Linked DNA regions of Homo sapiens. The protein of the gene in region 4 interacts with the protein of the main gene of each other region in a biochemical or structural test. Each region holds a gene or a part of one and is shown on either strand. Other genes may lie near its edges.

Evidence for each region.
Region 1: the proteins of STK4 (region 4) and THAP12 form a complex in vitro, tested with the Homo sapiens proteins (one study listed by BioGRID).
Region 2: of the proteins of STK4 (region 4) and SGMS1, one has a biochemical effect on the other in vitro, tested with the Homo sapiens proteins (one study listed by BioGRID).
Region 3: the proteins of STK4 (region 4) and SAV1 form a complex in vitro, tested with the Homo sapiens proteins (one study listed by IntAct).

Annotation. Positions count from the first base shown.
Region 1 is NC_000011.10:76,371,131-76,378,156, forward strand, and holds part of THAP12 (52 kDa repressor of the inhibitor of the protein kinase), read right to left. Parts: intron 1-7,026. UniProt on the Homo sapiens protein: Upstream regulator of interferon-induced serine/threonine protein kinase R (PKR). May block the PKR-inhibitory function of DNAJC3, resulting in restoration of kinase activity and suppression of cell growth.
Region 2 is NC_000010.11:50,613,942-50,620,967, forward strand, and holds part of SGMS1 (phosphatidylcholine:ceramide cholinephosphotransferase 1), read right to left. Parts: intron 1-7,026. UniProt on the Homo sapiens protein: Major sphingomyelin synthase at the Golgi apparatus.
Region 3 is NC_000014.9:50,665,281-50,673,025, reverse strand, and holds the start of SAV1 (protein salvador homolog 1), read left to right. Parts: upstream 1-4,719; 5' UTR 4,720-5,058; coding exon 5,059-5,152; intron 5,153-5,525; exon of another isoform or gene 5,526-5,644; intron 5,645-7,406; coding exon 7,407-7,745. UniProt on the Homo sapiens protein: Regulator of STK3/MST2 and STK4/MST1 in the Hippo signaling pathway which plays a pivotal role in organ size control and tumor suppression by restricting proliferation and promoting apoptosis.
Region 4 is NC_000020.11:44,969,509-44,976,534, reverse strand, and holds part of STK4 (serine/threonine-protein kinase 4), read right to left. Parts: exon of another isoform or gene 5,930-7,026; intron 4,458-5,929; coding exon 4,377-4,457; exon of another isoform or gene 3,615-4,376; intron 3,253-3,614; exon of another isoform or gene 3,102-3,252; intron 2,436-3,101; exon of another isoform or gene 1,202-2,435; coding exon of another isoform or gene 1,125-1,201; exon of another isoform or gene 1,123-1,124; coding exon of another isoform or gene 1,094-1,122; exon of another isoform or gene 851-1,093; intron 1-850. UniProt on the Homo sapiens protein: Stress-activated, pro-apoptotic kinase which, following caspase-cleavage, enters the nucleus and induces chromatin condensation followed by internucleosomal DNA fragmentation.

The DNA.
Region 1 (7,026 bases), on a different chromosome or scaffold from region 4:
ATCTCTTCCAAACTGGTCATCTGCCCTTCTCTAACCCCTTCTCCGTGCTGCAGAGCATTTTTTAAAGCCAATTTGAGAATGTCTCTCCCATGCTTAAGCTTTTAGTGGCTTCTCATTACTCTCAGGATAAACAACTGTGTTCACTTCTATCCTGGGGCCTTCCCTGCGCTGTTTACTCAGCCTACTACACTCTTCTTGCTGCTTTTTATACACTTCCTATGCACAGTTAACTATGACTCAGCCTTCAGATCTTAGCGCAAATGTCATTTCTTGAGGGAAAGTTTTCCTGACTCACATGTGTACATATATGTGGGTGTATGTGTATGAATATGTATGCACACAGAAAACTCCAGGCATTTAAGACTTTCCACCTCTCCATGTATAATATCTCAACTCCCTACATTTATCTTACTATATTATTCCCACAGTGTAAACATGCCCTAATGTCTCCCATCTTTAAAACTCTCTTAATCCTGATCCTCTTTATAGCAAAACTTGTTAAAGCATCCATTTGGACTGCATCCACTTATCTTGTTGTACTGTCTCCTTAATCAATGCCAAGGAGGCTCCTACTCTATCCCTTTTCCACTGAAACTGCTCAAGAAAATTACTAACGACCCTATCCTGCCAAATCCAACGGTCACTTTCCTGTACAGATTTTATTTCATTTTTAACTTTTCTTTTTTTTTTTTTTTTTTTTTGGTGGAGTCTTGCTCTTGTCGCTCAGGCTGGAGTGCAGTGGCACAATCTTGGCTCCCTGCAACCTCTGCCTCCTGGGTTCAAGCTACTCTACTGCCTCAGCCTCCTGAGTAGCTGGGATTACAGGCACCCCCCACCATGCCCGGTTAATTTTTGTACTTTTAGTAGAGATGGGGTTTCGCTATGTTGGCCAGGCTGGTCTCGAACCCCTGACCAGGTGATCCACCCGCCTCGGCCTCCCAAAGTGCTGGGATTACAGGCGTGAGCCATCGTGCCTGGCCTATCTTTTATTTCATTTTTAAAGTAATGAGAAGAGGTGTCATTATGTTGCCCAGGTGGGTCTCAAACTCCCGGGCTCAAGCGATCCTCCCGCCTAAACCTCACAAAGTGCTGGGATTACAGGCGTGAGCCACTGCGTGCAGCCACTTTCTGTACACACCTTAAACACCTTCAGCACTAGTCAACCATCACTGATTACTTCTTTGTTTTGTTTTTGATGTTTTTCCCTCATTGGTTTCTTACTAATGCAGCATTTCTAAAAGTGTATTCCAAGGAATCCTGTTCAAAGAATTGCTTCTAAAAAAAAAAAAGAGAGAGAGAGACAGGGCCTCAATCTGTCGCCCAGGCTGTAGCACACTGGTGCAATCATAGCTCATTCTAAGTTCAAACTCCTGGGTTTAAGCCATCCTCCTGCCTCAGCCTCTCAAAGTGCTGGGATTACAGGCCTGAGTGACTATGCCCAGTCAGAACTGTTACATTTAAAAAAAAAAAAAAAAAAGGGACCGGGCATGGTGGCTCATAATACCAGCACTTTGAGAGGCCAAGGCAAGAGGATCACTTGAGGCTAGGAGTTCAAGACCAGCCTGGACAATATAGGGAGACCTTGTCTCTATAAAAAATTAAAAAATTAGTCAAGTGTGGTGGCGTGCGCCTATGGTCCCCAGCTACTTGGGAGGCAGAGATGGGAGGATTGTTTGAGCCTGGGAGATGGAGACTGCAGTGAGCAATGATTGTGCTCCTGCACTCCAGCCTGGGTGACAGAATAAGAACCTGTCTCCAAAAAAAAAACAGGGTTCCACGGTCAAAAAAGTTCGGGTAATACCTATTTTATCCTGTCCTACCTGCTCTTAAGGTTTTAGACATTTCTGCAGGGCCTTTAAAAAAGTTAGCTAACCTCTCTGTACCTACTTTGGTCATCTGTAAAGCAAGGACTACCTCAAAATTTACTGCAAGGGTAACATGAAATAATGTATATATAACAGAGAAGTATATAACAGAGCAGTGCCTGTCACAAAGAATACACTACGTAAGTACTGTTCCAGCCTGGGCAACATGGCGAAACCCTGTCTCTACAAAAAATATAAAAATTAGCCAGGCATGGTGGTATGTACCTGCAGTCCCAGCTACTTGGGAGGATAAGGCAGGAGAATTACTTGAGCGCAGGAGGCAGAGGTTGCAATGACTGGAGATCGTGTCATTGCACTTTAGCCTGGGTGACAGTGAGACACTGTCTCAAAAAAAAAAAAAAAAGGAAAAAGAAGTACTATTATTACAACTCACCCCATTGTTTGGAAGATTAAATGAGTTGATATGAAAGTACTTCAGGCTGGGCGTGGTGTCTCACATCTGCAATCCTAAGACTTTGGGAGGCTGAACAAGGGGGGAATGCTTCAGCTCAGGAGTCCAAGACCAGCCTGGGCAACATGGTGAGACCCTGTCTCTAAAAAAAATTTTTTTCAAAAATTAGCCGGGGGTTGTGATGGGCACCTATAGTCCCAGGTATTTGGGTGGCTGAGGCTGGAAGATTGCTTGAGCCCAGGTGGTTGAGGCTGCAGTGAGCCATGCTCCTGCCACTGCACTCCAGCCTGAGTGACAGAGTAAGACCCCTCAAAAAAAAAAAAAGTTTGAAATTTGCTGCTCACATTTTAGAGCAGCAATTCTCAAACTTCATAGTCCCAGGATTCCTTTGCACTATTACATTATTGAGGACTCCAAAGATCTTTTATGTGGATTTTACCTAACAACATTTATCAGAAAAATTTTAAAAATATTTATTAATTCATTAAAATACCAACCTTATGTTAACACAAATAACGTTTTAATAAAAAATTGCATTTTCCAAAACAAAAATATTTAGTGAGAAAAATGACACTTCTTCATTTTTGCAAATCTCTTTAACGTCCAGCTTAACAGAAGACAGCTAGATTCTCACATCTGCTTCTGTATTTAATCTATTGCTATATGTTGTTTTGGTTGAAATATATGAAGAAAATCTAGCCTCATAACGATATGCAGTTAAAAAGGTTATTACAATACTCCTCTTTTTTCCATATAATTGTGAATTCTCCACAAGTGGTAGTTTCTTCAAGATTAGTTGAAATGTGACATCTGAGACCAGACCAATGAGCTTTTTCATGCCCTAGTACATAAAAAATCCCATAGTCTATCTTGCACTTTTATCCATGTATGTCTCTGTAAAACCATAAATTGGTCATTTGGAAAATATTAGTTCAGTGAGTTATACATACCATATAAATGTTAATGCAATTCATTATACAAAAAAAAAAAAAAACACATCAGTATCATCAGTGATCTCACCAGAAAAGTCTTTAAGTATTAGAGAGCTGTCAAGCTCACAGTGGCACATAAATTTTCCAAAATTCTAATTTTCAACTTGAATGCTCAAATTATCAGTTGTTCTCCTTGAAGTGGCAGGCTTGTTTATTTCTGAGAAAATGTCTACTGAACACTCAGATCTGAATAATATTTAGAAAATTCTAGAAAACACAACACAAAATTTATCAAAGCAATGATGCCATCATGTTATGTAGCAACCCAAAAATTCCACTGTCCACTCCTGAGAGACCAAATATGAAAAATGCAAATAATATCAGTGTTATTATGAAAATAGTTCTGACATTGTGGACTCCCTGAAAGGATCTTGGGGATTGCTATGGTCTGAATGTCTGCATCCCCTCAAAATTCATATTGAAACAATCCCCAGTGCAGTGGTGTTGGGAGGTGGGGCATCTGGGAGATGACTTAGGTCATGACGGGGAAGCCTTATTTGCCCCTTCCGCCATGTGAGAACACAACAAGAAGGCACCATCTAAGAAGCCAAGAGTGAGCCCTCACCAGATGCCAAATCTGCTGGTGACTTTATCTTGGACTTCCCAGCTTCCAGAACTATGAGAAATAAATTTCTGTTGTTTAAAAATCACCTAGTCTAAGGTATTTTGTTATAACAGCCCAAACAGGCACCCTCACGAGTCCCCAGAAAACCACTGTTTTACATTTCACAAAGTAGAGCACACCAGCTCTCAATCAGCCTTCATTAAATTGCCAGAAGAACCTTGGAAGCCCTCACCCATCTTGGGTGAGTTAGTACTAGCTGCCTGAGGAGGAAGAAGAGAGCTTCAACGCCCATCTCACTCTAATCAGAGCAATTCATTAGCTCTACCTGTACCATCTCCTGGTTTAGGAAGAGCTCCACTGTGAGCTGCCTCACAGTGGCAAGCCTTGGCATTAGGCAAGCCACCCTGGGGCAATCAAGACTTAGGCTTTTTTTTTTTTTTTTTACTTAAACCGTGTCACTGACCTAAGCTGGGTTGATTATTTCACTTTTTTAAAAAAGAAGCATATTAATGCCACGTTTTCTAAAACAATAAGAACTATTATGGTATGTGATTCCACACCATACACTTTATTAATTACACTCTTGAAGTTTAAATTATTTCTAAATAGCTGTTTCTAAAAGCATGCATGGAATTTATAACTGATGACTGGGAAATGTACTGTTTTAATAGCATTAAATATATTCATCTTTATTGTTTGTTAACAATGTTAGCATTTGAAGACTAGACTGGCAATGTCACCTTTTATCAACCTTCCCTACAACCTGTTTATAGAAGAAAAGGTGGGGGGGGGGTGGGTTAGAACTAATAACCCTAAAAATACTGTTATTAATTCAATAACACCTCTGGAAACTACTTCTTTGTTATAAATAACACTGGGCACAGTGAAATGGAAACTATCAAATACAGTAGAACTTAAAATCATGTAGTACGAGGAGGTTTGATTTGGATAAAAAGACCTTGAACATATTAAGTTAAACAAGCCAGACATAAAAGGAGAAATATTGTATGATTCCACCAATATGAGGAATCTAGAACAGGCAAATTTATAAAGACCGAAAGTGGATTCGAGGTTACCAAAGGCTGGAAGGGCAGGGGAATGGGAGGTTATTGCCTAATGGTTACAGTTTTTGTTTGGGATAAATGAAAAAGTTTTGAAAATAGTGGAGAAGGTTGCACAACACTGTGAATGTAATTAACGCCACTGAATTGCACACTTAAAGGTTAAATTAGCAAATTCTGTTGTATTTTACCAAAATTTTAAAAATTAATGTATATACCCCAAATCGTACACTTTACATGGGTGAATTATATGTGAATTGCATCTCAATAAACATCTTTTTAAAAAGAAATTCATGATTTGGTCTTGAAGCATTCAAAGGAGTCTAACGTTGAAAAGGGCAGAGACTTCGTGTGATCCTGGGAACAAAACTAGGACCTCCAAGGCCTCAATTACAGGAGGCAGATGTCCACTCAATACAAGGAAGAAACAACAGCCAAAGCGTCCAGAATCATCACGTGTCTTCTCACAAAGGGGAGGACTATCATTAGAGGTGTTTTAGCAAGGGCAAAGATGCCCATCTGTCAGGAATGCACAGGGCCTATAAAGGCCCATAAACATCTTTGTCTTCGAATGCTAAATTGTGTCTATGTTTTTTTTGTTTTTTTTTTTTTTTCAGGTAAGAGTCCTTATGCTAGATTCTCAAAAGGGATAATAACCCTAAAAATGATAAAAGTCACTATTATTGAGAAAATTCCAGTATTTCAAGTGAGATTTCACTAGATCTAAACACTTCTTTCAAATCTGAAACTGTAAACCCCTATAGACTATACTCCCCTTAAGGAGTGTAGTCAAAACAGGATTCACTACATATTAATACAAATGACCTGTGGTCCAGAACTGACTAGGGGTGCCCTCATTATGGAAGTGAAATAAACCTGTAAGAATGTCTTTGGGCTAAAATTTGGGTAAAAGGAAGATAACGCATAATGGGGCAAGGCCAAGTCAGACTAAGATGCTCCTCTCCTCTGTTCCCAACTGCTACTCCTCACTGTACTGAGCGAGTTCTTTCCCATGTCTCGGAACTTAAAACACTGGGAATGCCCCAGGACTCAATCCTCAGATCTGTTCTTTGCTCACTCCTTAGATAACCTTAACCCGTACCACGGTTTTAAATACCCTCTATAAACTGAGAACACCCATATTTACAATTTCCGGTTTGAAAGTCTCTGAATTTCAGACTTGTATATCCTATTCTCTCTTCAAGACATCTATTTTCTTTGAGGTGAAATTCTCATAACATAAAACTAACCATTTTAAAGTAAAAAACTAATGGCAATTAACACATTCATCATGTTCTGCAACCATCACCACTACCTAATTCTAAAACATTTTCATCACCTCAAAAGGAAACCTTGTAACCATTAATCAGTTGCTCCCCACTCTCCCTTTCGCCCAGCCCCAGGCAACCACTGATATGCTTTCTATCTCTATGGATTTACTTATTCTGGATATTTAATATAATAGAATCATACAACATATAAGCTTTTGTATCTGACTTCTTTCACTTAGCATAATGTTTCTGAGGTTCACCCATACTGTAGTATGTACTGGCACTTCATTCCTTTTCATGGCTAATATTTCATTGTATTGATATACATTTTGTTTATCCATTCAAGCACTGATAAACGTGGCTTGTTTCTACCTTTTGACTATTGCGAATAGTGCTGCTATGAATGTGTGTACATTTGGTTTTTTTGAATATCAGTTTGCAATTCTTTGGATATACGCCTAGGAATGGAATTGCTGGGACACACAGTAATTCTACATCTAACTGCCACTTGTGGTTTTGATTTGAACTTCTCTAATAACGAGTGATGCTCAGCATCTTTTCATGTGCTTTTTAGCCATTTATATCTTCTGTTTAAAGAAAGAAGTCCTTTGCCTATTTTAAAATTGGGTTGTCTTTTTGTTGCTGAATTGTAAGAGTTCTTTATATATTCTGGATACTGGACCCAGATCAAATGTATTATTTGCAAGTACCTTCTTCCATTCTTTTCACTTTCTTGGTAATGTTCTTTGATACACAAAAGTTTAATTTTGATGAAGTCCAATTAGTCTATTTTTCTTTTTACTGCATGTATTTTGGTGTCATATCTAAGAATGTGGTGCCAGCCAAGCACGGTGGCTTAC
Region 2 (7,026 bases), on a different chromosome or scaffold from region 4:
AGCTGTACAAAGCTCTTTTTTCCTACAAACACAGTTTTCTGCTATAATTAAACTAGGCAAATAAGATTATCTTCTGCCTCTCCACTGTCAGGTTATGTATCTCAATATACTTTTAATTTGTCTGTGCCTAAATTCCTCCATGGGGATAAGTGGTGAACAGGAAGTCTTTCTTTTTTTTTTTTTGCCAATGGAAGGGGGAATGAAAAATAACAAAAATAAATGAGGCCATCTTCCTAAGATGGGATGTAATGATGGCACTCCAAGCTTCTAATGAGTGCTGACTTATATTTCCAAGTTTTCTCTCCACCTTGGGATCATCTCTCCTGAGCCATGCCAGAACCACTGGTGAGCAGGAAAAGCAAGTTTCTGCTCTGGACTGGCTCAGACACCCCTCTGCTGTCCTAGATAAACAGGACCACATGAGTTCAGTTTTTATTTCATGAGGCGGAAGGCACTTCCAATGTCTAAATCTGAAATCATCCCACCTGACTGTAACTAGAAGTAGTAGCAGCTGGCTCCTCGCTGACATGGGCACTGCTGATGGCAGTGGTTGGCAAAGAGTGGTCCCCAGACCAGCAGCATGACAGTATCCAGGAACACATTAGACATGTCAACTGCCCACTGCCACCTGCCCCAAGCTCTTTGCCTCAGAAACTCTGGCAGAGGTGGGTCCCAGCCCTGGGCGTTGTAAGCAGCCTTCGAGTGATTCTGATACACGCTGAAATCTGAGAGCCACTGGCTTCACCTGATAAACATCTGAGGTCATGGGAATGCCCTGCTGGGCTAACCTGTGTATTACAACGCTTTATGTAAAGGTACTGGCTCTCCACCAACAGTACCTACTTCTGTTATTTCTGCCACCTGGCAAAGGCCCCAAACACTAAACTCCAGGGCATTCTTTTTCCTACTTTCTTGGGCAAATTACTTCTGTCCCACTCTCTTTGTCCTCAAAAAAGGTATGATGACAATATCCATTTCATTGGGTCAAGGACTTAGAAAGTGGCTGGCATGCAGTTAGCCATCAACAAGTGTGAATCCCTGTGATTCCGACATCTCTGCCAAAAGGTCTAATCAGAACTAGGAATATAGCAAAATAAAATTCGCTTCCTGAATGCTTACCACCTGACTTTTTCTCCCCACTCAATTCCAGAGCCCTGAGTGAGGACATCCAGGAATGACAGAGAATGCACCTGGCTCCACTGTCTTTCAGTATTTACTTGTTCAGTCTGCAACCTGAGCGCCCACTGAATGCCTGCCGACATGTGGAAAAAGCCATTCTATAAATTTGTACAGCCTCCAACCAGGTCTTTCCGGACAAAAGCCATCCAATTCTGGGGCATAAAGCCTCACACACCTCAAGAGAGGTACAGGAGGAAGGTGATGAATATTAACAAAAGTTGTCATAATAACAGCTAACATTTATGTTGTGGTTACCATGCCAGGCATTCAGTACCTTATAAATGTTAATATAGTCCCCACAATAACCCTGTAAGATGGCTGCTGTTATGACACCTACCAGAGAGTTGGGGAAACTGAGGTGCAGAAGGTTTGCATAACCTGCCTAAGGTCCCACAGCTTCTACACGATGAGGCTGAGATCCAAACCCAGGGTCCAGGGTCAGGGCTCTTCACCACTGTACTATAAGACAGAGAGCTATTGCTTATCTAGGCATCTTCTAACTATTTATCACCAATCCCACAGCACTGATTTTGAGATACTTATGTTTGGGCACAATATCCACTGTCATGGGATTCAATGCTGGGCCCTCAAGGCTCCCAACAGAAATGATAATTCTACTTGGTTTCTCCAGCGCCTTCTCCCCTCCCTAAACTAGTTCCACCCAAGCCAAATCAAAACTTCACAGAGCAGAATCTCTCTCCTCTCATAACTCCCCTGGCACTGCACCACTTCACCTCTAATTATATACCATCTGTCACATAGAGTTCTCTAATTGTTTCTTGCACATTAGCCTTTTCTTCCCCAGTCGACTGTAAAATTCTTTGGAAGTACCCATATTTTTTGTGAAACCCAACAAAACTAGGCAGAAACATGGGCTTGCAAATGTAGTCTTAGAGAGTGTTACACATTTATTGGCTAGCTAATTCACTTTGCTTTTCTGACTCTTCTTTATTATCAACCCTTAAAAACAGACAAAAGTATTAAGTTTATGAGATTTATTTTATTTATTTTTTGAAACAGGGTCTTGCTCTGTCATTCAGGCTGGAGTACAGTGGCATGGTCACAGCTCATCACAGGCTCAACCTCCAGGCTCGAACAAGCCTCCCACATCAGCCCCCCCGCCCCAAGTAGCTGGGACTACAGGTGCACACCACCACAACTGGCTAATTTTATGTATTTATTTATTTATTTATTTAGTAGAGACAGGGACTCACCGTGTTGCCCAGACTGGCCTCAAACTTCTGGGCTCAAGTGATCCTCCCACCTCGGCCTCCCAAAGTGTTGGGATTACAGGTGTGAACTACCATACCCAGACAGTTTATGCTATTTAAAACCAGCATTAGGGGAGGTATTCCACCAACATAACCTAAGCAACAACTCTGTTTCAAGATCTGTATTCCAAGCATCTCCTACAATATCTTTTAAACCCTTCAGCAGCCTCCCTAAGCGGCGGGGGGTGTTGTTATTCCAGTTTGAGGAAAGAGGAACCAGGGCCTACCAGGGGTGAGTAATTTCACCAATGTCATTACAGGCTGATAAATGAAGGAAGATTTTAAAAGATCTGTCCCAAAACACCTATTAGCCTCCCTCTAATGTGGAGACTAAGGTGCCAAGATTCAAATTATCCTCAAAGCAACCTTTATAAAAAATGTTATCATGACAGAGAAAATTTGAAACTCTATTAAAAAGTCATTTTTAAAAAGATGAAATGATGACCATGTTCACGGACAGAATTACAATAAGACAGAAAATCTTACAATATTAGACAGAAAAATCATATTATATATTCAATGCAATGCCCATCACACTTTCCTAACTTTGTTGAGAACTTAATAAGCATTCCAAAATGCATATGGAAGTATAAACATCCACAAATAACCAAGTCAAAGTATAAAGAAAAGTAGGGGCTCATTCTGCCATATAAAACACACTGCAATGCTATAATAAAAAAAATTGGGGGGGCATAAAAACAGACAGATGATTGGTATCAGTATGTCGCAAGTAATGGGGACAGTTTCAGTTTGGGGTGATAAAAAATGTTCTGGAAATGCATAGTGGTGACAACAATGTAAATGTACTTGATGCCACTGAATTATACACTTAAAATGGTTAAATGATAAATTTTATGTTATGTGTATTTTATCATAATTTAAAAAGATTTTTAAAAATCAGTATGTTGAATGAAAGGAACCAGACACAAAATGGTACTATACTGTATGGTCCATTTACATAAAATTCTAGAAAACACAAACTAAACTACAGTGACAGCATATCAGTGGTTGCTTAAGTCTGGGGACAAAGGGATTACAAAGGGGCCCAAGGGCAATTTTGGGGTGATGGAAATGCTCTGTATCTTCACTGTGATGGTTTCACAGGTATGTACATCTGTCAAAAGTAATCAAGCTGTACACTTTGAATGGATTTAGTTTACCTATATAAGTTACAACTCTTATTTTTATTTATGTATTTATTTATTTATGAGACAGGGTCTCACTCTGTCACCCAGGATGGAGTGCAGTGGTGCAATCTGGGCTCACTGCAAACTCCGCCTCCTGAGCTCAAGCAATCCTCCCACCTCAGTCTCCCGAGTAGCTAGGACTATACCAATTAGCCAGGCTAATTTTTGTATTTTTTGTTCAGACAGGGTTTTGACCAGGCTGTTCTCTGTTCTTGAATTCCTGGGCTCAAGCAATCCACCTGCTTCAGCCTCCCAAAATGCTGGGATTACAGGTGTGAGCCACTGCACCTGGCCCTGGCTTAATTTTTTTTTTTTTTTTTGTAGAGACAGGGTCTCTCCATGTTGCCCAGGCTGGTCTTGAACTCCTGGACTCAAACAATCCTCCCACCTCAGTCTCCCAAAGTGCTGGCATTACAGGCATTGAGCCACCACGCTCAGCCTTAATAACTCTTAATAAAGTTGAAAAAGTAAACTAATATGTGTCTGTGGGAATCTGAGGTATGATAAAAGTGGCTCCACAAAACTATATGAAGGAAAGAATACACTGTTTAATAGATGATTTAGGAAAACTGTCTCACAGAATGGAAAGGAAAAAAATAATGTGAGATTCCTTTGTTTTCCCATATATGAAGATGAACTTCAAATAGAATAAAGCCCTCAATGTGAAAGGTAAAACTGGAAAGCTGACAGAATACAGAATATCTTTGTAATCTTGGGGTAAGGAAAAATATCTTATACTCTTAAAGTGCAACCTAAGGCAAAAATTAATGGACTGGGGCTATATCAAAACTAAAAATTTCTCAAAGTTACCATTGACAAAGTTGATAAACAGAAGACAGGATGAGATTAACATCTAGAATATACCAAAAAAATCTTCAAATCACCACATTAGGAAAAGCAAGTATGGCTAGTCAAAGAAATTATAATCACTAATGAATATATTAAAAGAGTTCAAATTTACTAAGAAATCATATAAGTTCACAAAAAGAAAACCCAATGAGATCCCACTTTACAGCCACCAAACATTGGTAAAACTAGAAAGTTGGTTAATAACAAATTTGAGTAAGAACGTGGGGAATCAGGAACCCTTGTGCACTGATGTGGAACAGAAAGCAGCTGAGCAACTCTGGAGAGTAATTTAGCAGTGTTTAGTAAAAACAGGTATGTTTGTACACCATTACTCAGCCATCCCACTCCTAAGTACATACCCTTAGAGCAGCGGTTCTCAAACTTTCCCATGTATCAGAATCTCCAACCTGGGCATGCTGAAACACAGTTCAGGGTTTCTGATTCAGGAATTCTGGAATGTTAGGACCCAAGAATCTGTATTTCTAACAGTTCAGAGTTGATGCCGATGCTGCCAGGTGTGGACCATACTTTAAGAACCACTACCCTAGGGATATTCTCAACCAGATCATTAAGAAAATGCACACAGACCCAGCTACTCAGGAGGCTGAGGTAGGAGAGTCTCTTGAGCCTAAGAGGCAGAGGCTGCAGTGAGCCAAGATCATGCCACTGCACACCTGCCTGGGCGACAGACCGAGACTCTGTCTCAAAAAAAAGAAAAAAAAGAAAGAAAATGCATACAGGATGTTTGCTAGTGGTAGCAGGAGTGGAGGTGAGTTAAGCATCCATCATTAGGGAAATGGGTAAGTAAAAGTAGGAGACACATAAAAGACCAGCCCTACAAAGCAGCAGTCAAGGCAACGCACTAGATAAACCTGCACTAACAAGGATCTCACAAATAAAATGTTAAGGTTCTTCTGACTTTTATGAATGCCTGCAAATTTCCATAATAAAAAGCTCTAATGTTGAATAAAAAAAGAATGAAATCTATAGCACAGAACCACTTATGTAAATCAAAAACAAACAAAGTAACTCAACATCTTTAACAAAATACATACATATGCAAGAACATATCCTGCACTGGAAAGAAGGCTCCTCTGGGGGAGAGGGGCCTGGGGGGTGCTGGGAGGGGAATGAAGGAGAAAAACGTAAAACAAGCAAGGGGCTTTTGCACAGTGAGAGGATCCTGTGCCAAGAACTGGAATGTGAGCTCAGCTCTCAGCACCAGGAGTCTAAAAGGTAAATCACCCAAATTATCTAAATCTCCACTCACCTGTCTGTACGTATAATGGTTGCTTCAGTTAAAGCCCTTGTGGCTTTACATCATTAAGGGAGTAGATCAGCTTGTCACTGAGAGTGGAGGGGAATCTTTCTCAATACAAGCTTGGGGTGATTTCAGGCCCCCAAAATCAAACCTGCTACTGAGTCCTGGATTTTCCCTTTGACATATTAGTTTAAAAAGACACTGGTGCTCTTGGCTTTTGGCAGAGTGTGTGTGTCTCTTTCTCTGTGTCTTTCTCTTCGCTGTCTGTGTGAGTCTCTGTGTCTGTGGATCTGTGTGTGATGTGTTTATCTGTGGAGATGGAGGACTGGGAGAACAGCAAAGCATTCCAGCAGGGCCTGAGCCAAACTTATTCATCAGCACCATTCAATGCAGCTTTACTGAATCCAGAAGTCAGTTATAAAACCAAGCTACCTTCCTGGGGCTCCGCCCACCCTTCTCTTTCCCTTTCTTCACTCTCTCCTCCCTGACATCCAATGCTGCCTCCCAACTCCCACATCCAAGTGGGCTGATCCAAAATAAGGTCCTCTTGTGACTGGGTAGCTTAATGGAGGTAACAACCTTTACAGGGATGCTCTTAGAGAGGAGAAATAGCCATTTATATTCCTGACCAAAAGCCTTTAATAGGAAAGCCAAAAATCTTGAAGACCAGCATGTCATAAAAGTTCCTCCAGAAGAGACTGTTATGGCTATAGCTACCATCCAAAAAAGGCATAGCCATCTATAACATGTTATGCCCCCACAAGGACACAAGAGCCACTGAATAGTTTGCCATATGAAGTGGTGGGAAAGTGTATATGGCAATCAAAAAATAAAAATCACCATTGATCAAATTTGTGTGAGAAAATGCAACAGATTCTTCTGACAGGATTGCTTTAAAAAGCAAGCTCATGCCAAGAAAGTACATCTTTAGGAGAAGAAGAAATACCTAAACAATTGGAGGAAGGAACAGACAGTGATGGTAAAGAGCAGAATGAACTGGCAGCACACTCATGCCTCCCTCCTAAAGACCAGGGCATTGATGCCTGTGTGCAAACAATCCAGAATTTTTATTCCCAAAATACTCTTTCAGCTTTTCTATAGCAGCACTTTTCAGAGTTTTCCTGAAATGTTATGTATAAAATGAAGTTTTCTAAGTTAAAGCATTTGACATCCAACAGGAGCACTTTTTAGTTAAAAATAATAATAATAATACTGCTAGGTGCAGTGACTCACACCTGTAATCGCAGCACTTTGAGAGGCCAAGGTGAGAGGATTACTT
Region 3 (7,745 bases), on a different chromosome or scaffold from region 4:
GAACCCGGAAGGCGGAGCTTGCAGTAAACCGAGATCGCGCCACTGCACTCCAGCCTGGGCGAAAGAGCGAGACTCCGTCTCAAAAAAAAAAAAAAAAAAAGAATTGTGATACTAATTCTTTATGTTACTGGGGGGATGATTCATCTTACATAACAGGAGTTTAGGAACCCTACTAAATTGCTAATATTAAGCAATTATATAATATCTTCAGATCTGTGTAGACATTACACACCCTTATCCTTCATAGGAAACAACCAAAGTTTCTGCCTAAAGGACACTTAGGAATTTACCCTCCCATATTTTATTTTTTATTTTTTTGAGACAGAGTCTCACTCTGTTGCTCAGGCTGGAGTGCAGTGGTGCGATCTCAGCCCACTGCAACCTCTGCCTCCCTAGTTCAAGCGATTCTCCTGCCTCAGCCTCCAGAGTAGCTGGGATTACAGGCACACATCACCACACCCCGGTAATTTTTGTATTTTTAGTAGAGATGGGGTTTCACCATGTTGGCCAGGCTGGTCTCAAACTCCTGACCTCAGGTGATCCACCCGCCTTGGCCTCCCAAAGTGCTGGGATTATAGACGCAGGCCATCTCGCCCAGCCCCCTCCCATATTTTAATAGCAAAATTTTGGAGACTTGAAGAGCTATAATTGGCATAATTATTACATCTTCCTGAGACAGATTAAGTTTATCTTGTTATGTGAAGAAGAAGAGTGAGCTGGAGAGTAGACTAGAAGTTCCTCTCCTTTTTTCCTTTTTTTTTTTTTTTTTCTGAGGCGCCATATGTAGGGCTTATTTCCATTTTGGTTGTCTTTCTTGGATAATCTTTCACTGAATAGTTCACCCTTTAAAATTTTACATGCTTCCAACGAGGAAGTCAACATAGCATAAAGACCTTAGCTGTCTTTGAAAGTAACAATCTGGCACGAAATTTTATTTTTATGCTAATCATGATTTTATATAATGCTGATATTTTAATATTTTCTTTAATACTTGAATAAAGAACAAACTTTTTAAAGAAAGAAAATCACCAACATTTCTCTTATCCTATGAAGGTAAGTTTTTATTTTTGCATATTCCCTTCTGCCTACATGGCAGAAAACTCCAGGACTGAAAGACACTTTAGAAATCAAAGGGTTTGGCCGGGCACAGTGGCTCACGCCGGTAATCCCAGCACTTTGGGAGGCCAAGGTGGGTGGATCACGAGGTCAGGAGATCGAGACCATCCTGGCTAACACGGTGAAACCCCGTCTCCACTAAAACTACAAAAAATCAGCCGAGTGTGGTGGCAGGCGCCTGTAGTCCCAGCTACTAGGGAGGCTGAGGCAGGAGAATGGCCTGAACCCGGGAAGCGGAGCTTGCAGTGAGCCGAGATCATGCCACTGCACTCCAGCCTGGGCGACAGAGCAAGACTTTGTCTCAAAAAAAAAAAAAAAAAAAAAACAAATGGTTCACTTTCTTCATTTTCAGATGAGACAACTAAGAACTCAGAATGCTATGAGGTTAGCCCAGGGTCATACCTTATAGGCTCCACTAAAATAAATTTTAATACTAAATTAATTTTTTAAAAAAGTTGTTAAAACATGAGAAGCTCCCTAATTGCCAGTTTTCTCCACTAAGAATGTAACTGTAAGGGGAAAAAAAAAATCTCTATTATGGAATGCAGTATTAGCATTATTGAAGGCAATGTCTGGAGAATTACAGCTCCGTAGAACTACAGCAAATCTGAATTCCTTAATAAAAATTCTCAGAAGTCAAGGAATTTCTAGAAAACAAACATGAATTCAAAGCTTTTAGATTTAAGGATTCAAATTCAAAGTTCACATATTTGTTGTGCATTGCTATAGCTAATGCTGCCTGCACATTGTTGATTCTGGAATGTACCCTCCTTGATAAAAAGGCAAATTAGTTGTCTTAAATAGAGCACCTAATTAAGGCTTTCTCTCTGCTATAATCCACAGAAATTAAATAGCATTGTAAAAGGGAGTACTCTCTAAGGAACACAGACGGCTTTCAAAACAACTGTTAGAAACAGTCTGGACTCACATTAGTGGGATTCTGAATGTTCCGTAGCAGTAAAGAGCCCCAAACGGAAATTGAGGCTGGCCTGGTGGCTCACGCCTACAATTGCAGCACTTTGGGAGGCCGAGGCGGGCAGATCACTTGAGGCCAGGAGTTCGGGACCAGCCTGGCCAACATGATGAAATCCAGTCTCTACTAAAAATACAAAAAATAGCCAGGTGTGGTGGCGGGCGCTTGTAATCCTAGCTAGTCAGGAGGCCAAGGTAGGAGGATCGCTTGAACCTGAGAGGCAGCAGTTGCAGTGAGCTGAGATAGTGCTACTGCACTCCTGCCTGAGGGATAGAGCAAGACTCTGCCTCAGGGGGGAAAAAAAGGGAATTGAAAACTCCAGTTCTGATGCTATTCTGTCATTAACCAGGAATGTAATCTGAGACAAAACACTTAATTTTTCTCGTTCCTTTTTGATGTTGATGAGGTGAGCCTAGGCAATCTCAGAATTCTTTTTCAACTATAAAATTCTAGGATTCTTTCCTCCGCACATGTGAAAGGTGTCCCCGTACTTCAGGCTCTGGGAAAACTCCAGGTGTGAAGAGTTGCCTTTATTAACAAGATGCTAATATCCTTTTGTCCTTCTCTGAGGTAAGCCTTAGGCAGAAACCTGGCACTTCTTTGGCTCCCCCTTCCTCCTTCAGCTCCCGCCTTCATACCCTGATGTGTAACAAAACCCCATTGTGCTCTCACTTAAGTTTCATCACTCTTTCTTCTCCCTGCACACTATCAACGCTTTAGGACTCGTCCTTATTTCTGAACCACAGGAACAAGTAACTGTTTTTCTAATGTTTCTCTCAGAGTACACTCTGCTTCTAGTGAGTTCCAATTCTGTTTATTAAGATTTTCATACCCATGGCAGTGATTGATACTCCCACACTCCATATTCAATGTCAGCAAATTTGGTTGGCTTTCTTTAAAATATGTCTAAAATATGTCCACTTACCTCTCCACCTATTATTGCCTGGGTCCAAGCCAGCAATAACTTCTGACTGATCTCCCTTTTGCCCTTAGCTCCATTGTCTACTCTCCACACAGCATCCAAAGCAGTCCTATGAAAACATTAACTCAGATCATGTCACTCCTCTGCTCAAAGTAACATTCCTTACAATGGCCTACAAAGCCCTAGGTGCCGTGGCTATTGTTACTCTCTAACTGCATTCCCCATTCGTCTCCCCGTCTTTTCCAGTACATAAACCCTCTTACTGTTCCTCCAATCTGCCAGGAACATGGCCACTTGCAGCGACTTTGCACTTGCTGTTCTTTCTGCCTGGAATATTGTTCCTCCAGTTAGCTGCATGGCCAATTTCCTCACTCTGTCACTTAACTCCAATGTCACCTCCTCATGAGCCTTCTCTGGTCCCTCTATTACCCTCTCAAAAATTGTGAGTCCTCTCTTATTTTCACTTCATCACTTATCACTATCTAACATAGTATGTTTTGCTTATTTTTTGTCATTTTTTTCTCTTTCCCATGACAGTAGGGATTTTTGTCTGTTTTGCTTATTGCTCTATCACAAACGACTAGCGCAGTGGGTAATGAGTATTTCCTGGTTAATGAATGAATTGTGGGAGATCTGCACCAAGGGAACATATGGAGACAGACACTAGATCAAATGTCTCCTTTGTTTGCTCATGGTAAAACATTTGACCATCTTCTTAATCTTACGTGGTAAAAAATTCCATGTCTTTTGTTAATTGTGATATATGTCTTAGATCTCTTGTGAGATGTTTTAGATCTCAGGGAAAGCATTCCTCATTATTAAAGCATTAATTTGGTCACTAGGGGATGAATCCAATCTTATTTTCCAAATGTTATCCTGTACATTTGGCAGTCTTGCTAAGTTATATAGAAGGAAGTAGAGTCTATTATTTTAGATAGAAAATTCCCGGTCCCGACTCGCAGTGGTCAAAGTCTTCAAAATTCTAAGATCATAACACATAACGTCAGGAGGAAATATGTGGCTATTAATCATACTAATGATAGTGATGATGCAATAAAATAATTGTAATATGCTAACACCAATTGTATCTTAAAAAGAGGTACTGGAAATTCCATCTTGCATTCTTCCGTTTTTTCCTGTTATAGAAAAACGCACTCCCTGATACTCAGTAGAGGATCAACTTATTTCTAGTTAATCAGCATGAACGTTTCCAGCAGAATAGATGCTTTGGTGTAGCACTTGCCTGGGAGTCATGGTTAGCATTCCGCATTTTTTAGAGAGCTGAATTCAGCAGCCTAGGAAACATTAGGAAGAACACCTTCAAACAGGGAACAACGTCTTGGGGGGAAAGAGAGTCACTGCCTCCGCTAGGGATCCCGAGGGGGTACAAAAGCAACAACAATAAAAACTCGTGGAGAGTAGGTTCCACGACATGCGCATGCGACGAACTCCCGCACTCAGCGGGGCAGGTTTCGTCCTTCATCTTCTCAGTCGGCAGGACCTGCTTCTCGCTGAGGATGAGTGAGGACAGCCGCAGCTCGGCGGGGACGGCCCGGTAGCCTAGAGCGCCGGCACCCGAGTCCCGCCGCCGGAGCCGCGCCTGGAGCCGCGGTGGGGGAGGGGCAGCGGCGGCCCGCGCTGCGTCGAGCTTCCCAGAATTCCCAGCGGCCGCGGGGAAAGTTTACGGGATGTAGGCGGCGGCGGCGGTAGTGGTAGCGGTTATTCGGCGGCCCGCGGCGGACCATGGCCCTGGCCCTGGCCCGGCGTCGCTGGGCTTTCCTCACGGCGTCCCCGAGCAGCGTCGCAGAGCGGGCCGACTTCCGGGAAGGAACTGACCAGCGACTGAGCGGCGGCCGGCGCGCTTAGCGCCCTGAACATGCGGCAGTCCCTGCGGGCGACCCCGGGCTCCGGACAGGCGGCGGCGGAGGCGGCGGCTCGGGAGGGAAGGAGGCGGCGGCGCCGGCGGAGGTGGCGGCGGAGACGGCCGGCGCCCGGCGCGGAGCCCTAGGGAGGCAGTTCAGCGCGGCCTCGGGCCTCGTCGAGAAGGATGCTGTCCCGAAAGAAAACCAAAAACGAAGTGTCCAAGCCGGCCGAGGTGCAGGGGAAGTACGTGAAGAAGGAGACGTCGCCTCTGCTTCGGAGTGAGTGTCAGGCGGGGCGTGCCCACACCTGGCCCAGGCGGCCAGGTGCTCCGGGGACCCTGGCGGGGGCGCCGGCGGGTCTCCAGGGCTTCTCCTTCGTCCTTGGTCGCGTGAAATACTGGTTTTGAGATTTTCTTGTGTCTGAAGTGGTATTCGTTGATTGAAAGCCCATAAGAGTAAGAAACTTGGGTTAGTCCCCCCCGCGCCTAACCCCCCCAAGAGCACCCCCTAAAAATAACAGACTTCCTCGCCCCACCAGGCAGAGTTGTTGGTTTTGATTACTGGAAGAGAGAGTAGGAAACATTTAAATTGCTTATCACCTAATGCTATAGGAGTAAAAGTAATTAGACAGGGACACTTTTTACTCTTTTAGATGCGTCGAGATGTGCGTCATGTTTGCAAACATTGCGGGTGTCTCTCGACTGTGCTGCAAGTTGTGCGAACTCTGGGGCAGAATTCCTTAGTCCTGCTGCCGGATGCAGACTTGAGAAGGTGAAAAGCATACCGTCGTTCTTGTAGCCGCCACCCAAAGCCTCATCACTCTTACACAGCAGAGCAGAGAGCCAAAAGCCTTTGTATTTGGCTATATTCGTGAGATTCCAAGAAGGCAACTCAAAATAATTTCTATCGTATTAGAGAACCCCCCCCTCGAAAAGTTTTTTTTTTTAATAGGGTAGATCCCACTCCCAATCCCCACCTCCGGTCCCCCGCTGCTTTTCTTCTTAATGTAAGTATTTGATTTTTGAGTTGAATCTCTTGAATTTTTAATTCTTGTGTGTTCAGGACATTTGTGAGGCATGGAGCTGGTATTTTGGTGCTCTTACTGCGCCCTGGGCCCTTTGCTTAAGTTTCCTTCTTGGAAGCTGGTAGTAACCTTGTGACTTAAGTATTACCTCATATTGTAATTGGGAAAGTTAGGTTTCTAGTATTTGCCCAAGATCACACAGATGGGAGAGCATGTTTTTCCATCATAACCACATTGTCAGCCTTCCAGATTTATGGTGGTACTTGCAATACTTTCAACAAAATATATGTCAGTTGAGTACATCAGTAACTCGAAACTTGATTTTTAAGTTGTTTTTTTTTTTTTTTAACAACTTGATTTTCAGTCACACATGCAGTTAGGTTTCTGGCTGTTTTTAAGTGATAGCTTGCTGTTTGCTGCAAATAAAGTTTATCAGACATTACTTGAAATCGTGAATTATGTTTGTCACACTTTTTATTATACTTTAAGTTCTGGGGTACATGTGTAGAACGTGCAGTTTTGTTAATGTTTGTCACAGTTAAGCAAATAACTTTTGATCTACTTTGTTTTGTTGTCGTTACATCAAGTGTTGAGCCTTATTTATTCAGATATTTGTTTCTGTCCAGTGTTAGTTTCTGAAGCTTATTAATATGAGTGTCTCCAATATTGTTTACTTGATGAATAATAAGAGGGTCTGCATATTCAGGTTTTTGTCTTGTTTTAAAGGTATTTGCTTTCTAACTGGGAATGTCTTAAGCTGTTTTCAAGTTTCGTGTTTAAAAGTACTGTATCCTAAAAGCTGTTGTTCTATTATCTACTATTTTGAATTATAATTACATAGTTTCAGGCTTGGTTTTTTGAGCCACTTCTACATTTGTGTGCTTCTTTGAAATGAGAGCTTTTTATTTTCAATTTTCATACATAAATTTTTGGCTTTCTAGCTTTTGATTACTGTGCTAGTGCTAGGTAATTCCAAGAGAAGAAAGAGCTACTAATTTTTTAATTTTTAAAGGAATCCACTTTTACATATTTGGGAGTAGCATTAAGTTCTATTTTTGAAATTGTGTTTGCTTCAAGAAGGATTTTTGGCAGTTTCTAAAATGAAGTGAGAACAACAAAATAAACTACTTAACTAGAAACTATCAATTTGTTATATTATTTCCTATTTTTATACATTAATTCATGAGCATTTCATTAATGTGTAGTTCATAGATAAGATTATTGATATTTTATCATATTATGTATGGTAGTATGCAGAATACATTTTATTCTAGCTGAGCTTTTACGCATAGTCCATTAATGCAAGTTATATAAATTCATTTGATTGGGAAAATATTAATCTTCCTCAATTTAAAATGCCCAAGTACCATCCTAAACCAAAATTTAAAATTGTGTTTTCTTAAGTTGACTGACATTTTGATTTTGGGGTGGTAGACATAAATGAACAAATTTCGAAAACTTTTGTTACTTAATGATGAAAGGGTAATTTTATCCTTTGTTTTATTGTAGATCTTATGCCTTCATTCATCCGGCATGGTCCAACAATTCCAAGACGAACTGATATCTGTCTTCCAGATTCAAGCCCTAATGCCTTTTCAACTTCTGGAGATGTAGTTTCAAGAAACCAGAGTTTCCTTAGAACTCCAATTCAAAGAACACCTCATGAAATAATGAGAAGAGAAAGCAACAGATTATCTGCACCTTCTTATCTTGCCAGAAGTCTAGCAGATGTCCCTAGAGAGTATGGTTCTTCTCAGTCATTTGTAACGGAAGTTAGTTTTGCTGTTGAAAATGGAGACTCTGGTTCCCGATATTATTATTCAGACAATTTTTTTGATGGTCAGAGAA
Region 4 (7,026 bases):
TATCAGATTATCATTTTCCATGGGTAATCTCCCCATAGTTTTTAAGGTTTCCTTTGTCCTTAACAGTCTACTATTCTACTGTAATGTAACTAGGAGTTGATCTGGCACTTCATAAACTTCTTCAATCTGAGGGCTCGTGTCTTTCCTCAAGAATGAAAAACTCTCAGGATTATTATGTGATTATTTCCTCTACCACTTCTAGGATCTTCTTTTAGAATTCCTACCAAAACTGTATTAGACCTCCTCAATCTATGTTGTCTTCCTGGTTTCCAACACTGTATTTCTGCATGTTGTGATCAGTCTCATTTCTATCTTTCAATTCACAAATTCTCCTTTCAGTTTGTCTAGTTTACTGTTTATCCAATTTATTGGGCTTTTAAAACTTCAATTGTTGTAGTTTTCATTGTCAAGATTCCCAACTTTTTATCTGCCTTTGGGCAAATATGTTAATAATCATGTCAATAATCTGATGTCCTTTTAAAAATGTTATCTCCTCCTTGATCTTTTTGAAAATTGTAATTATATTAAATTGTTTTTGAGATTGCTTCATTATTTCTTTTTCCTTCAGTGTGAATTCTCCCATTCTGCTGATTATCTCATGGCAGTAGATTTCCTTGCATGGATTTCATTTTCTCTTGAATGATTTTCCTCTATACCACACTCACTGTCGATGATTTCATGGTTTTCTCAGTACAGTAGTCTGGGATATACAACTTAAACCAGGTCTTATATTCAGAGTTTGGGGTTTTTGCCCTTCAAGATACCATACTTAAATACAATCCAAGCTCAGTTCCTATTATCGAACCAGTATATCCATTTTTTCCCTAGGCCACAGGCAAATGACACTTTCTGGTTGTGGTCAGGCAAATTTATTTCAGCTTTAGTTCACAGATGGAGAGCCGAGTTCCAGCCCCCAACTTCATGCAGGAAGCTCAAATGCAATCTCCTGACAAGGATAAGGCATGCTTTAGTCTCCGCTGATTATTTAGATTTCTTTCCTATCCCTTGTCCATAGCTGTCTATATATCCTTATATTTAAAATAATTTTCACTCATTATTCTTATATATTAGAAAGTTCTCTTCATACACTCACTCAGCAATCTTGACCAGAACACTCTTCATACCTCCCTATGCATCCTGATAGCAAGGAAAACTCCAATAGCTCACATGAAGTTAAGATTCCTGATTCCATATACTGCATCTACAGTAATCTGAAGGCAGGGATAGGGGGTGGTTAGAAGATTTCAGCAATCATACTCACAAGCAAGTCCCTTAAAACTTGATTCCCTACAACAAAATGAGATGATTCAATGAATTACAACTGACAGCAGAGAATGGAGAAGTAGGTGTTTTACATAAGCCATGCAAGGCAAGGATCTATGTAGAAAAATGGAAATACCACAGTATCTGAGGCCAAATTAATCAGATACAAGTCTTAACAATAGCACTCATTTTTTATGAAACCATGGGCAAGATGCTTTTGTTATCATTCTATGATAAAAATTCAAATGAGTCAATGTGTACAACTTTAAGTAGAAGAAAAAAGGTGCTAGGCTCCACTTGAAAACACTTCCCAAGTGCTCTCCACTCATCCTGGTCTGGAGCTTTGGCTCTACTCTGCCACAGATCCATATGATCCTCATAACACAGAATGATTGCAGCCTCCAGAATCCAACAGTTTTTTTAGCCATAGCTCATTTCACAAGATACAAGTCAGTGAGAGTTCACAAACCATTCATCCTCCCGAACAATTTAAGAATAGCATTGGCCAGGCGTGGTGGCTCACATCTGTAATTCCAGCAATTTGGGAGGCTGAGGCAGGCAGATCACAAGATCACGAGATCAAGACCATCCTGGCCAATATGGTGAAACCCCATCTCTACTAAAATACAAAAAATAAGTCGGGCGTGGTGGTGTGTGCCTATAGTCCCAGCTACTCAGGAGGCTGAGGCAGGGGAATCGCTTGAACCTGGGAGGCGGAGGTTGCAGTGAGCCGAGATTGTGACATTGCACTCCAGCCTGGTGACAGAGCAAGACTTAATCTCAAAAAAAAAGAATAGCATTGTGTCACATGTTTGGAAAAGAAGTGCAGTGAAGGTCTTCCTTCAAAATATTCCTAGTTAAATGAGGCTTGCTTAGGTTCATTCAGTCAGAATAACAGAAATCCAAGAAATACCAGAAATCTGGTATTATTTAGAAGAACAATAAGGTGATAGTATGGGAAGAAAGATCTGAAGCTTTGTTTTCTCCCTGGTGATATCTTCATAGGGAAATTTCCACATTCCTTGCAGAAGACATCCATAGATCTAAAACGCAATTTGTCCAGGTGCAGTGGTTCACGTCTCTAATCCTAGCACTTTGGGAGGCTGAGGCAGGAGGATCACTTAAGGCCAAGAGTTCAAGACCAGCCTGGGCAACACAGTGAGACCTCGTCTCTACAAAAATAAATAAACAAACAAATAAATAAAATACAATTTAAAAAATCATAATTAGCTTATTTTTTGTTTACATTATATTTCTGATATATTCTCTGTCTATAGTCTTCCTTTGACATTCCACAAACCCAATCAGCTCAGAGCTACCTATAACAACACCTAAAAATACTTTAAGACTTGACATGATGAGGTCTTGAAAATGCTTCAGTTGATACATTTAAAATAGAATAGCAATAGTTGCCACTTACTGAACATTTATTATTGTGATAAGCACTATACTTTACCCCAATTACCTCAGGTAATAACACAACTCTATGAATTGATATATTATTATCCCAACTTTACAGATGAGGATTGTGAGCCTCCAAAATAGTAAGCAATTTGCTTAAGCCCACTTGTCTATTATGACCAGTAAACAGTAGAGCAAGGATTTTAACCCAGGTCAGCCTCACATTGTAGTAGTAAGAGCAAACTGTATTAGAAATGAGAGAAATAAGTTACATAGTCAATTATGCCTATCAGTCTTGAACTTATTCTAAGTATAACTTATGAGCATTGTTAGATTAAAGGTCACAGCCTTGCTGCCTTAGGGAAAATAGCAAGGATGGCAAGCTAAAGCTGAAAATGGCAGGCAACAGATGTAGAGGGACTGTCATTTCCCCATACCTTTAATGATGCCAGTCAACTGGCAGTCTTCAGATTCATCTTGGACTTGTCTTTTCACAGCACAGCTGGTGTGTCATTTTTACTTCCCTTCTCTGCTTGATTTCTTGCTGGATTCCAAAGAGTATTTTTCCAACTTACAAAAAGACGATGACTCATGTTTTTTACAAGGAGGTAAATCATAAAAAAACCATTTCATGTAATCCAGGATTGGGTTTAACGTTGTAAATCTGTCTCCTAACATAAAAAATACTAAACCCAAAAAATAATCTAATGACATAAAGGAAATTATTTTAAAGAGCATATAGTCATCAGTCAGTAGTTGTTTTTACAAGTTAGTATGTCAGGTCTTCCCTTGATCCAGAAATACTCCCAAGGGATTAAAAATACAGACACACACACACACAAACACGAGTGTGCGCTCGCACACACATAGCCTGTCTCTGAAAGACACACAAGAAGCCGCTACCCTTGGTGATTCTGGGTGGCTAAGAGACAGAGAGAGGTAGGAGGCAGTTTTTTTTTTTTTTTATTGTATGCGTCTTAATATTTTTTTAAATTTTGAATCATATGATTGTATCGCCTATTCAAAAATTAACAAGAAAAACTTAAGAAATGGTGTCATTAACATTTTAATTTCCTGGTCATTACAGAAGAAGGAATAAATACACAGGATTGAATTAAAATGATATATAAAAGTATAAAAATTATGTAAACTTAATTGTATCATGAAAGTCAATGATGGTCACTGCACATTACTAATATCATTTCATCAGTATTTTATAAACGCATTAACAAATCTGTGTTTCAGGAAATCCACTGGCTCCCAACCCAGGATTGTGGATCTCCTAAGTAGCTGTGAAGGTGGTGATAGTGCTTAATTTATTTACTATATTTCACAAAGGTGCAAATATTAAAATACTAAATTACATTGATTTTCATTGAAACAGTTATTGCATACCAATCAGAAATTATGAACAGCAAATTAAAAAGTTTCTTATAGAATTTTAATCTAATTAGTGCTATCTGTTAAGTAGATAAAATCATACAGATCCTACAAAAGAGAAAACAATAGATATTCTTCGTGTTAAAAAGACCAGGAATCACTAAATCTGTCTATAATAGGGATTGGAGTAAAGCGAAGAAGGACATCACAAGCTGTAAATTTACCTTCCACCCCACCTAGAACAATGCTGAAAGGTTCATATCCTTCTGCTTCTTCTGGGGCAGGAAAAAGACTGGGACCCAATGACCTACCTATAGTTTCTTTACACTCACCCTTCTCCAAGTTTCTCTAAGACATCAAATACTTCTTCTGGTTGTTTGGTTAAACTATCTTCATCCAACTTTTTCAGCTGCCTGTGAATAAAGAAATATAAACACAAAATACATTTTATTTGCTAGGAACTAGAACATAAAATATATCTTTTTTTTATAATTAGCATCTCAGGAACTTCTCTATACAGACTTCACTAGTTAAGACTGTTTTAAGAAACAAGGTTTCTTGGGAGGCCGATACAGGCAGATCACGAGATCAGGAGATCGAGACCATCCTGGCTAACATGGTGAAACCCCGTCTCCACTAAAAATACAAAAAAATTAGCTGGGCGTGGTAACGCATGCCTGTAATCCCAGCTACTCAGGACGCTGAAGCATAAGAATGGCGTGAACCCAGGAGGCAGAGTTTGCAGTGAACCGAAATTGCGCCACTACGCTCAAGCTTGGGTGACAGAGAGAGACTGTCTCAAAAAAAAAAAAAAAAAAAAAAAAAGTCATGTGGCTGAAATGCTGTAGATTCAAGCATTCGATGTATCCTTCAAAATCTATTTAAATCTTGAGATTTCATGAATTAAAATGATGTAATTATCTCTTCAGAAAAGGTGTTTAATGTAAGGTAACTATGAATTGAAACATAACTATGAATTGGACTGCAGACTAAGGAAGACACGGGAAACCTTTGCTCTTCCATTAGCAAGTTTTTTGTAAGTTTGTCAAAACACATAAATTCTGTAGGTATCACAGAAACAGAAAGTGGAAAGTGTACATTTAGATATGATCAAAAGTGAAAAATCACTAGGCAGCTGTGAGTTTCAGATATTCTCACAAAGACCTTCCTATGAGTAGATACATACCTTTGACTAGTCCCAAAAATCAAAGGTACTTGGCTGCTCACAATTTCCAGATAATTCAGATTTCTGACTATGCTAGACAATCATAACAAACATGGGAGGTTATAAATTAACATTTTTTTAAAACTCTGAGATCTCTGAAAATTACTAATGAGCTTAAAGAAGGAACTTGCCAAGGAATATGTGTGTGTGTGTGTGTGTGTGTGTGTGTGTGTGTGTGTGTGTAGTCTACACAATGGCTTCCTGAAACTACAAAGAACAACAAAGAATAGAGAGCTGAGGAAACGGTGAAATATGGAAGTAGTCACACTGGAGACCTCTTTGTAGAAAAAAAAAGGTTTAGACTAGCTGGATAATATCAATTATTACAACAAAAGACTTAAATACACACACATACACACACACACACACACACACAAATGTGTACCTTCCTAAATAAAACAGATTAAAATTAGAAGACAAAAAATAAAACAAACCAACAAAAACCCTGACCACATCAAGTGTATCTACCAATAAACACTGATCTCAGAAGGACAATCTTATAGTTTATGAATATCAAGGACTATAAACTAGAGAAATGGAGAACTGCTCCAAGTCAAAACTGCCTTAACTTGATATCAACAGAACAAAATGATCACAGTGACCTTTGAAAATCAAAAGGTCCTAAAAATTAAATACCAATGACATCATAAAAACTCCTACCTTCAAAATGAAAAGGGATGAAGTGAAACTCCTCTTAAACTTCAGAACTGAAACTTCTATAAACTCAGAAGTCAGAACGAACATCTCATATGCCAGGGTTTTTTTGGTAAAGTCCTGAATTGTAATTGTATAAACATTGGACAATACCTCACTTCTCAAGTATAATCAAAGTTGTATAAACAGCTTATACAAAGGAAGATCAAGTATGTTTCTTTGAAGTGTTGACTCTCTGTGGTTTACAAAATGCAAAAGTCACTATTTCAACTACTTCAGGGACCACAGCATAACAAAGGAAATTGCCACTGCCTTGAGATAGACAGCTGCAAACCTCTGATAATACTTTGACAAACTTTTTTTTTCTTTTTTTTTAATTATTATTATACTTTAAGTTTTAGGGTACATGTGCACAATGTGCAGGTTAGTTACATATGTATACATGTGCCATGCTGGTGTGCTGCACCCATTAACTCGTCATTTAGCATATGACGGCTCGAATACATCTTTGAAACAATCTAAGTGCTTTTTTGTTTGTTTTTGATCCGGGGCTATTAAAAACAACTTGAACTTAAGGCGCTATTACATCTCTGGTGCCTGATAACCAAGAGGTGGTCAAAATATATTTGTGAAATGGATTCACAAATGTAATGATGGGAATCACGAATTTCATCAGCAATCTTTGAATTATCACAATAAAACAGAATTTCACCTAAGAAGTATTACTGAATTATCAACATTTCTATAAAAATATTTTGATAAGTGATTCATAATAATATTTTATACCATGACTCTTCACAGAAAAAACACTATTACCAAAACAGCCTGACTCTGATAATACAGTTCTCTTATCTGGGACTTCCCCAGGTTCCAGACGGTTTCAGCACTTGCTCATAAATGAACAAGCCTGATCAACAGAGCATCCATGGACCAAATACTGGTGGATGCTCCTCTCCTAAGTCAGATGGCCATGTGGATGGCCAGCATCCCAGGAATGCACTCTACGCCTTCCACTATAACATTAATCTAATGGCAACTCATTTTTTAAAATTATTAACTCCTATATGAGACACCAATCTGTCATCACTTAATCACACACACAC